3 separate regions of the Homo sapiens genome follow, and all the other regions are linked to region 3. The links come from fine-mapping of genetic effects on gene expression. A gene starts in region 3. Each other region holds a variant in brackets. All regions are shown on one strand. Distances are from middle to middle.

Region 1 (2,765 bases), 56 kb after region 3:
TTCACCTTTTCTCTGTTTTTGTTCTTTCCAGACCCCCAGCTGGTTGGATGGTGCCTGCCCACATGGAGGGCCGATCATCCCCACCTAACCCACTCAGACTCACATGACAACGTCCTCTAGAAACACCTTCACAGACACTCCCAAAATAATGCTTTACTAGGTTTCTTTTCTAAGTGTTCTTTAACCAGGCAAGTTGACACCTAACCGTCACAACCCGCTAGGTTGTCCTGCGGCCTTTCTGCTCTAAGCCATTTGTCTTTTTCCTGCTGGATTACAGGTTATTTGAGTGTAGAGAATGTATTCATCCACGTGTATCTTGCAGCTTCCAGGAAAGCAACTTAAGCTTAATAGCCGCTCCAATGTGAAAGATATTATGGAATAAATTGTCAAAAAAGACAGATATTACATTTACTTTTGTGATAGTTTACATCTATAAGGAAAAAATAGGAAAGACTTTTCAGGAATGGTAGCGACATGAATACCAATAACCAATTCCATTCTTTAAAAATTTAAAAATGTGAATTTAAACAAGTGGCAATTTTAGTTGTAAAACCATATGTAAGAATTACCTTTTCTTCTACTCTCTTGCCTGGTGAAGAGAGTCTAAGGCTTCTGAATATATCTGCATTGCCAAGACCTTACCGACTTAACCATATTTAGCACAACATGTGATTTTATTGTTCATCTGCAACTATGTTGTCTGTTATATTTGCTTCTGTTCACTACCAGAGACATCAGTTAGCTCAGATTTCTATTAACAGGCATAATGTCATGGCACTCCCTGGGATGAAAGAAAGAGAGCAGGAATTAGCCATTTGTAGCTTTTACAGCACCACCTTTATCAATATATTCCCATTTAAAAATATCCTTTTATCTGCATTGCAAAAATGAAATTATATAGCCATTACCAAAATTAGATAGGAGATTCATTGGATCAGAAGTGCTTTCTTTCTAATCCTTAAATGACCAAAGGGTTCTTCTTTGATAATTCTATAACAGAGTTAAAATTCCTTTTATCCTGAAATGTTACAGATAGGAGATTAACCTAGTTATGCTTCACCCATGTAAGGAGTGCATGTCTCACAGAATCAGGCAACAGCAACAGAGGTGTCTGATGTAGGAAGGTACAGAAGACATGAGACTTTCATGAATTATAACATGACTCCTTAAATAATACAAAAGTACTTTACAAATAATTAGACTATTTTAGACTAGGAACTCTGATTTCCGGTTAAACCTTAAGTTGCTTCCTACTTGTTG[A/T]TGTGTAATAATGTACATGGAGCACCACACCTAGTAAGAAGACTCTTCCCTTTTTTTACCTGAACTTCTTCTTTTTTTTTTTTTTTTTGAGGCAGAGTCTTCCTCTGTCACCCAGGCTGGAGTACAGTGGCACAGTCTTGGCTCACTGCAACCTCTGCTTCCAGGGTTCAAGCGATTCTCCTGCCTCAGCCTCTCAAGCAGCTGGGATTACAGGCACCCGCCACCATGCCAGGCTAATTTTGTATTTTTACTAGAGACGAGCTTTCACCGTGTTAGCCAGGCTGGTCTCGAACTCCTGACTTCAGGTGATCCACCCGCCTCAGCCTCCCAAAGTGGTGGGATTACAGGCATGAGCCACTGCACCCAGCTTGCCTGAACTTCTTTACAATTTAGTAATATTTTGATCACTTATTAATTATGGGCAAGGATGGCAAAATTGAATAGAAATACTAAAGTTAATCAGTAAACATTTGTTATATATCTACCATGCAGGATGTTTTGCAAGGGATTATGATTTAAAATAAAATACCAGACCAGGCATGTGGCTCAGGCCTGCAATTCCAGCCCTTTGAGGGGCCAAGGCTGGCGGATCGCTTGAGCCCAGCAGTTCGAGATCAGCCTGGGCAACACTGCAAAATCCTGTCTCTACAAGAAAATACAAAAGTTAGCTGGGTGTGGTGACATGTGCCTGTTGTCCCACCTACTTAGGAGGCTGAGGTGGGAGGATCTCTTGAGCCTGGGAGGTCAAGACTGCAGTGAGCCGTGATCATGCCGCTGCATTTCAGCCTGGGCAACAGAGCAAGATTCTGTCTGAAAAAAATAAAATAAAATAACATAAAATAAAATAAATAAAATACCTGCCTTCTAATAAGATTACTTTTTAGTGTTGTTATAGGGATGAGATATATATCAAGCACCGAACATGGTGAGTACTGAATAAATGCGAGGCAGTGTTTTCAAGGTAACTTCGTGTAACTAACACTTACACAGAATTTCAGAGAGAATAAGATAATTCAGACATATTAGTAATATTTGATAAACAGAGATTTCACTCTTTCCTCAACATAGTGTTCTGAGATTGAAATGAAGAGAAATATGTCAGTACATGAAAACTGTGAGTGTTTACTTTCAACTGTGAAAACGAAGCCAGATTTGGAACTAGTAAGGTATTCATCACAAAAATAGAACCTAATTATATGTAATTGAAGATAGGGCTTGATGCATGGCACTTATTTTAGAGATTCAAACATGTAAAATAAGGGTGACAGTGGTTTTTGAAGGTGCTTTAAATTTTATATCCATCTCAAAAATCTTACACATGCTATATATACTTAAATAGACCAAATTCATTCTCATTAACCCACAAACAGCAATAGAAAGGCTCTGGGCTAGGAGAGAAACTGAGGTTTAGGTAAAAATTTTGCCACTGTGGCAAGTTGAATAATGTCCCCCCAAATTTATGTCCATCCAGAACCTTAGAATGTGATCTTGTGATCTCATTATGC
Region 2 (2,765 bases), 320 kb after region 3:
ATAACCTTTCTCCTCTGGCACCGGTCCTCCCAGCAGAGAGGGATCCTGCCCTTCCCTTCCCACTCTCCAGCATACAGACCAGCAGGAAGCCACAAGAGGGAAAAAAAAAACGCCTTCTGTATAAGGCCTATGAAAGGACCATGGGCCAGCCTCAGAATCTGCTGCCCCTACAAACCAGTATTCCTCAAATGATAGTTCCACATTTACTTAATAAGGAGGACTAATTTTCTAATTTTAAAAATTGTGTTCCTGCCAGATTCACATAAGTAATTCATTTCCACCGGCGAAGGCAATGTCAACAATTTAAAACGAAAAATCAGTAAATTACCCTTCCAAAAATACCTTTCTGCTGTTCTGATTCCCAATCTTTTTCTTGCAATTTCCTGAACCAGAGATGTTATCGGGACTTACATACATAATCAATACATAAAATCAATCCTCAAGTCTCCATAATGTCTCTGTTCTATATGTTTGTTTTGCAGGGTTACTATGAATGAAAAAGACAATTTCATGAATGCAGAAAATCTGGGGATCGTGTTTGGGCCCACTCTGATGAGGCCCCCTGAGGACAGCACCCTGACCACCCTGCATGATATGCGGTACCAAAAGCTGATTGTGCAGATTTTAATAGAAAACGAAGACGTTTTATTCTAATCCATCAGGGAAATGAGCTGAATGGCCCCAGCACCATCCAAGTTGACACAGCTAAAGGAATAAAAACATTTCTTACCACTTGATTTGTTTTCCAAGCAAGTGCTAGAATTTCCTGGACTGCAGAGGATCGCTGAGTGGGGTACTGTGTCTCATAGACATGCGCCACCTCCACGTGAGAACAAGGGTGAAGGTGAGGGAAGCCCCTCACCTTGGGTCTTTTGCTGTGCCTCCTATGTATGTCTGGTTTGCTGGAAGAGTGATTAATACATCTTTAATTTATTAAAAAACAATGTAGACCTTTAAACTTCAGTCTTATTGGTAATAAAAGGGAACTTAATTCATACAGGTACTTGATACAGTTATACATTTTCCACTTACAAAAAGAAGACAATTCTGTTAAATGAAACGTGTATCGTAAAATGTATTTTTATTTTACCCACGAGAATGTTGTTATTTTTAGCAAATAGAACTCAATGCAGTGCATTGGTTATTACCCTGTGTACCTTGTCCCTCATTTTGCTGTGACACCCTGAAAAAGCTGACCACAAATGCAGTATTATCTTGACATACCTCTGTCCTCCTCAGTGCTTTTTAATGAAATTTCACCTGCCCCTTGTGTTCCTGCTTTGGATAGTTTTTGCTCTTAAGCATTGGCATTCTTCTATTGTATGGTATGTATTTA[T/C]AGCAATTGTAGGATGGTCTGAAATGTCCACACACTTTCTATGCATACAAATTTTGTGAATTCCCAAAGTATGCTTTGGAATTGGTCATAGTCTTTTCGTATCATGAGTGTGTATCCCAGAAGATACAGAATGCGGTCATTTTACCTGAAATTATTTGAGAACACTGGATGTATCTGGTCTGTGTAAAAAGTTAGCACTTACCCTCTTTTCTTCCTGGCCAAGCCCTCTGAATTCATCTGTTAATATCAAATTGTATTTTTGCCACATTTCTGTATTGGTGAAAAGCGAATCTGCAGAATAACTGTCAACGTTTTTCATTCTTGTTTTACAAACCTATTTTTTAAAGTGAGAATAAGGTTGGTTTTTACCAAATATTTGTTCCTCCTTGACAAAAGTAGCTCTGTGTGGATAATATGATTTTATTACTACAGTTCCAGTCACTTGGTTATATTTATCTTAGCATGAGCCTTTCACACCAAGATTTCTATATTTTGTAACATAGGTGAAATATTTAAAACATCAAAAACTGTAAATCTAGATTTTTAAAAAATCCAACTGCAATGTCTTTTCCTTTGATTGAGATGATTTGTGTAAACTCACCAGTCTTGCTTTGGAGTGAGCAGAAGAGAATGACTATTTTACGTGGAGCATCATTGTGTGACTGTTGACCTGGACAGTCCCAAGGGCTATGCAGATGGACTCCATTGGCACAGGGAGGTTTGACCTCTTCCCTGCTATTATCCCTCCTCCCAACTGTACAGATTTGTTTGTTGTAGTTTATGTACTTCTTGATACTGTCAAAAAATTATCTGGAAATGGTTTTATTTTGTGAAGTGAACAATACTTTGTAATTTATGATAGTGTAAATGGAAGGCAAAGCATCACATGTATTAAATTCTTCTGTCTATTATTCTGGAGTATGTGCAAGAAAGTGGTTTGGAGGGATGGGGTGGTGGATCATCAAAACATTGTTTCCAGATAGACGCTGGCAACAAATTTTCAGTCATCACTGAAACACAATGAGAAAACAGCATCTCATCGAGTCCCCACTCCTTCTGCAAGCTCCCTTCTAGAGAGCCTGCTTCAAGATTAAGGCCCTGAGGCTCCACATTCACTTTCCATAAGCCCCACTGCATGGATGCATCATCATACAGAGGTGAACCGTTTAGGGCAAATCACCCTAGGCCACTTGGAGGGTAGCAGAACAAGACTTTTAAAGTCAGAAAGCCCTGAGTTTGATCCCAGATCCATCCATTTAGTACTACCTGCATATAACCATGGGAAGTTTGCGGCTCTGAAAAACTGAAGATGATAATCTGATTGTGACACCTTAAATGAAATTTATGTTCTAGGGTAATTAGTAATAGTTATTTCTCATTATTACCATTTTAGAAGGGGAAAGGATATAACATGGAAGCAGGGATGGAA
Region 3 (2,765 bases):
TTAACAGTTTAGCAAGGTGTATTTTTAAAAAATGGACCTTAATGAGAAGACACACTGGGATAGTATCCTGGAGGGATTTTTTTTTTTAAGTTCTAATCAACTAGAAAATGTGACGTGGGTGCGTACTGTGATTATTTAACATTCATTATTCACTGTATGTTAGGTCCTTGGTTGATGTGGATCCCCAGGGCCTAGCTGCTGTTCTGTGTCACTCCTGATAATTTTTAAATTGACTATGTTCTTTTAACCATGTTTTAAAAAGTTGAACTACCCCAATGTGAACACTTTCCATTTTTGCTATATAATGAGAGTACTTTCATTCCTTTAATGTTTGCTTTTTCCTTTGATCTAACAATTTCTCTTCAAATTTCACAGTTTTCTGTTGCTTTAGGATTGAAAGAACCGATTAGCCCGCTGGGAGCGTGAAACAGACTTAAAAAAAATCTGCATGGTATTTCCTCCCAGTGAAATTAATTTAGGTTTAAATACAGGGGGAAGGGACACACCTTGTGCTCGAGTCTCTTTCTCTCACACACCTGAGCAGTTCCTATCCTGAAAGGGCACAGTCGGACCTGCTGCCAAGTCTTAAGTCTTTTGTGAGAATCTTTTTTTGCAAGGCACGGAGAACCTCTTTCTCTTTGACACCAGCTTTGTGTGGGCCTGATGACACGTTTGGACGGCTCTATTTCTTTGAAGGCCAACCTCAGAGGCCCACGGACGCGTCGGGCACTGTCCGTGGCTGGGTTACTTAAGTGTAGCTGGGTTGGCTTCCCGGGTGTTTTAGGAAACGCACCTTCTTGCAGGGCAGGGACCGTCAGCTCCAGAGCAACAAAGGACAATTTGGAGAGGAGTGGAAGGAGCGCTCCATAGTGGCTCTGTCATCCCAGGTTCCCTTCTGCCTAGCACCGTGGCCCTAGTGATCCCGCCTTCGCCCTCTGGATCCCCCACCCCCACTGTCTCGCTGCTCGAGAGCCCGGCGGGGCGCGGTGAGCCCCACCACCTTCCCCCACACCCTCCCTCCCCATCCCCTTCAAATCCTAGGAGCAGCGCTGCGCGCAGCAGCCGCGCTCGCCCCGCGCCCGGCCCCGGCCTCCCCAGCACCCCGGGGACCCGGTCCCCCGTCCCGCCTCCCCCTGTCCAGCAGTCCGCAGCCTCCCCCTCCAGCCCCAGTGGCGGGAGCTGTCAAGCCCGCAGCAGCCGAACCACCCCCCGAGCGACCGCGTCTCCTCTTCTTCCTTTGTGTGTGCGCGAGCGGAGTTGGGGCGGAGGGAGAAGGGGGAGGTCGCTCTGTCTGTCCGTCTCCCGCCGCCTCTGCCCGGTCTACTCGAAGTGCGGCGGGAGAGGCGGGAGCCCAGGAGAGGGTGCGGGAGCTGGCGGGGCGGCTCGGAGCTGCCAGGACGCCCTGGTCCCAGCCGCGCACAGGGGAGCGTGGACGGCAGAGGGGCTCGGCGGGAGCCGAGATCCGCCCGTCCCGGCTGCCCCTCGGCCTCCCTCTGCTCCCACCTACCCCCTGACACCCATAGAAAAGCGTGCAAAGGCGCGGAGCGGGACGGAAACCACAAATAAATAGCGGCGGCGGCAGCGCGTCATCTGGTGGAGCAGGAAGTGCAGGCAGAGTCCGGAGGCTGGTGCTTTCTGCGCGTCCCCAGGACTTTGCCATGGGCTGGGGGCCGCGGAGGCTGCGAGCGGCCGGGCGAGGGCAGCGGCGGCGGCGTCCGCACCGGGGCTGAGCGAGCAGCGACGCGAGGGGCGCGCGGAGATGGCAGCGTCCAGCAACTCCAGCCTGTCCGGCTCGTCGGTGTCCTCCGGTGAGTTTCAGCCCGTCGGGCGCTGCTGCCGCGCCGGGTCTCGCCCCACTGCCCTCGCCCCGCAGCCTGGGATGGACAGAGCCTACCTGTGGCCATCCCGCCCGCTCTCTCGGAATGGGGGCAGGCGTCCGGGGTGATACTTGTTTGGTTCGCCAGCACCTCGGTGCCCAGAGCACCTCCGCGCCTGACATCTGACAGCGCAGAGGTGGGAGAGCGGTGGTGCCCTTAGTGTGCGGACGCGGGTGTTCCGGGGCTTGGAGTGCAGCGAGCGAAAAGCGAAAGGAGCGGGCAGGCTCGCACTTTCTGGCGCAGCTGGAGCGGGGGCTGGCGGGGCGGAGAAGGTTGGGGTGAAGCAGAGCGCCCCGACCTGTTTGCCGTGCCGCGCCCGCTACCCTGGACACCCAAATCCGGAGCAGAGGGGAGCAAACCCTCGCTCCTCGCAGACTTGATTTTCTTTGTTTGTTTCAGAAATTAGCTCTATGGAGACACTCGCTTGGGCATGGGTTTTAGACAGCAGCAATGAAGGGATGTATCTTTCTGATCCTGATTGAAGTGGGTTAGGGGAAGAGAGGTCGAGCCCATCCTCTGACTCTTGGCACATTTACGAGAGAGAGAGAGAGAGAGAGAGAGAGAGAGAGAGTGTGTGTGTGTGTGTGTGTGAGAGAGAGAGAGAGAGAGACTCCTTAGAGATTTTCTGATAATAGTGGCTGTAATTTCACTAGCAAGGCATGCATTTTTTTTCCTTTTAAGAATGGTTGAGCAAAGGGAAGGCTTCTTTCAGCTTTTCTATGGTTGATCATCGGGTCTAATTGAAGAGAAAAAAATTGCTAATGAATCTGAAGGAGTAGGAATCAATAGAGGCAGACCCACTGGTTTCTGAGTATGACAGGTTTCTAATCAGAATGATGCATTAGGTAGAATTCCTGTACCTCTCTGGTCATTGAAAACTTTAATGAC

Evidence for each region. PIP is the estimated chance that this variant, and not a neighbour inherited with it, causes the effect.
Region 1: its variant is the best candidate, but not a certain one, in a credible set for the expression of CHN2 in whole blood (TOPMed, PIP 0.69).
Region 2: its variant is the best candidate, but not a certain one, in a credible set for the expression of CHN2 in whole blood (TOPMed, PIP 0.55).

Annotation. Positions count from the first base shown.
Region 1 is chr7:29,249,381-29,252,145 of GRCh38, forward strand. The region is part of intron 1 of CHN2 (chimerin 2); the gene reads left to right. Among named protein-coding and RNA genes, the nearest start is that of CHN2-AS1, 42 kb to the left of the region's middle. The variant A/T (reference allele first, on the strand shown) is at 1,261.
Region 2 is chr7:29,512,082-29,514,846 of GRCh38, forward strand. It overlaps CHN2 (chimerin 2), which reads left to right. Exons shown (of 13, transcript NM_004067.4): 13 at 483-2,247. The coding sequence ends at 654. It overlaps PRR15-DT (PRR15 divergent transcript), which reads right to left. Exons shown (of 2, transcript NR_183550.1): 2 at 1-2,765. Among named protein-coding and RNA genes, the nearest start is that of PRR15-DT, 50 kb to the right of the region's middle. The variant T/C (reference allele first, on the strand shown) is at 1,337.
Region 3 is chr7:29,193,183-29,195,947 of GRCh38, forward strand. CHN2 (chimerin 2) reads left to right here and starts at 1,593. Exons shown (of 13, transcript NM_004067.4): 1 at 1,593-1,808. The coding sequence starts at 1,760. It also overlaps a transcript of CPVL not described here. RefSeq lists an enhancer at 2,246-2,765.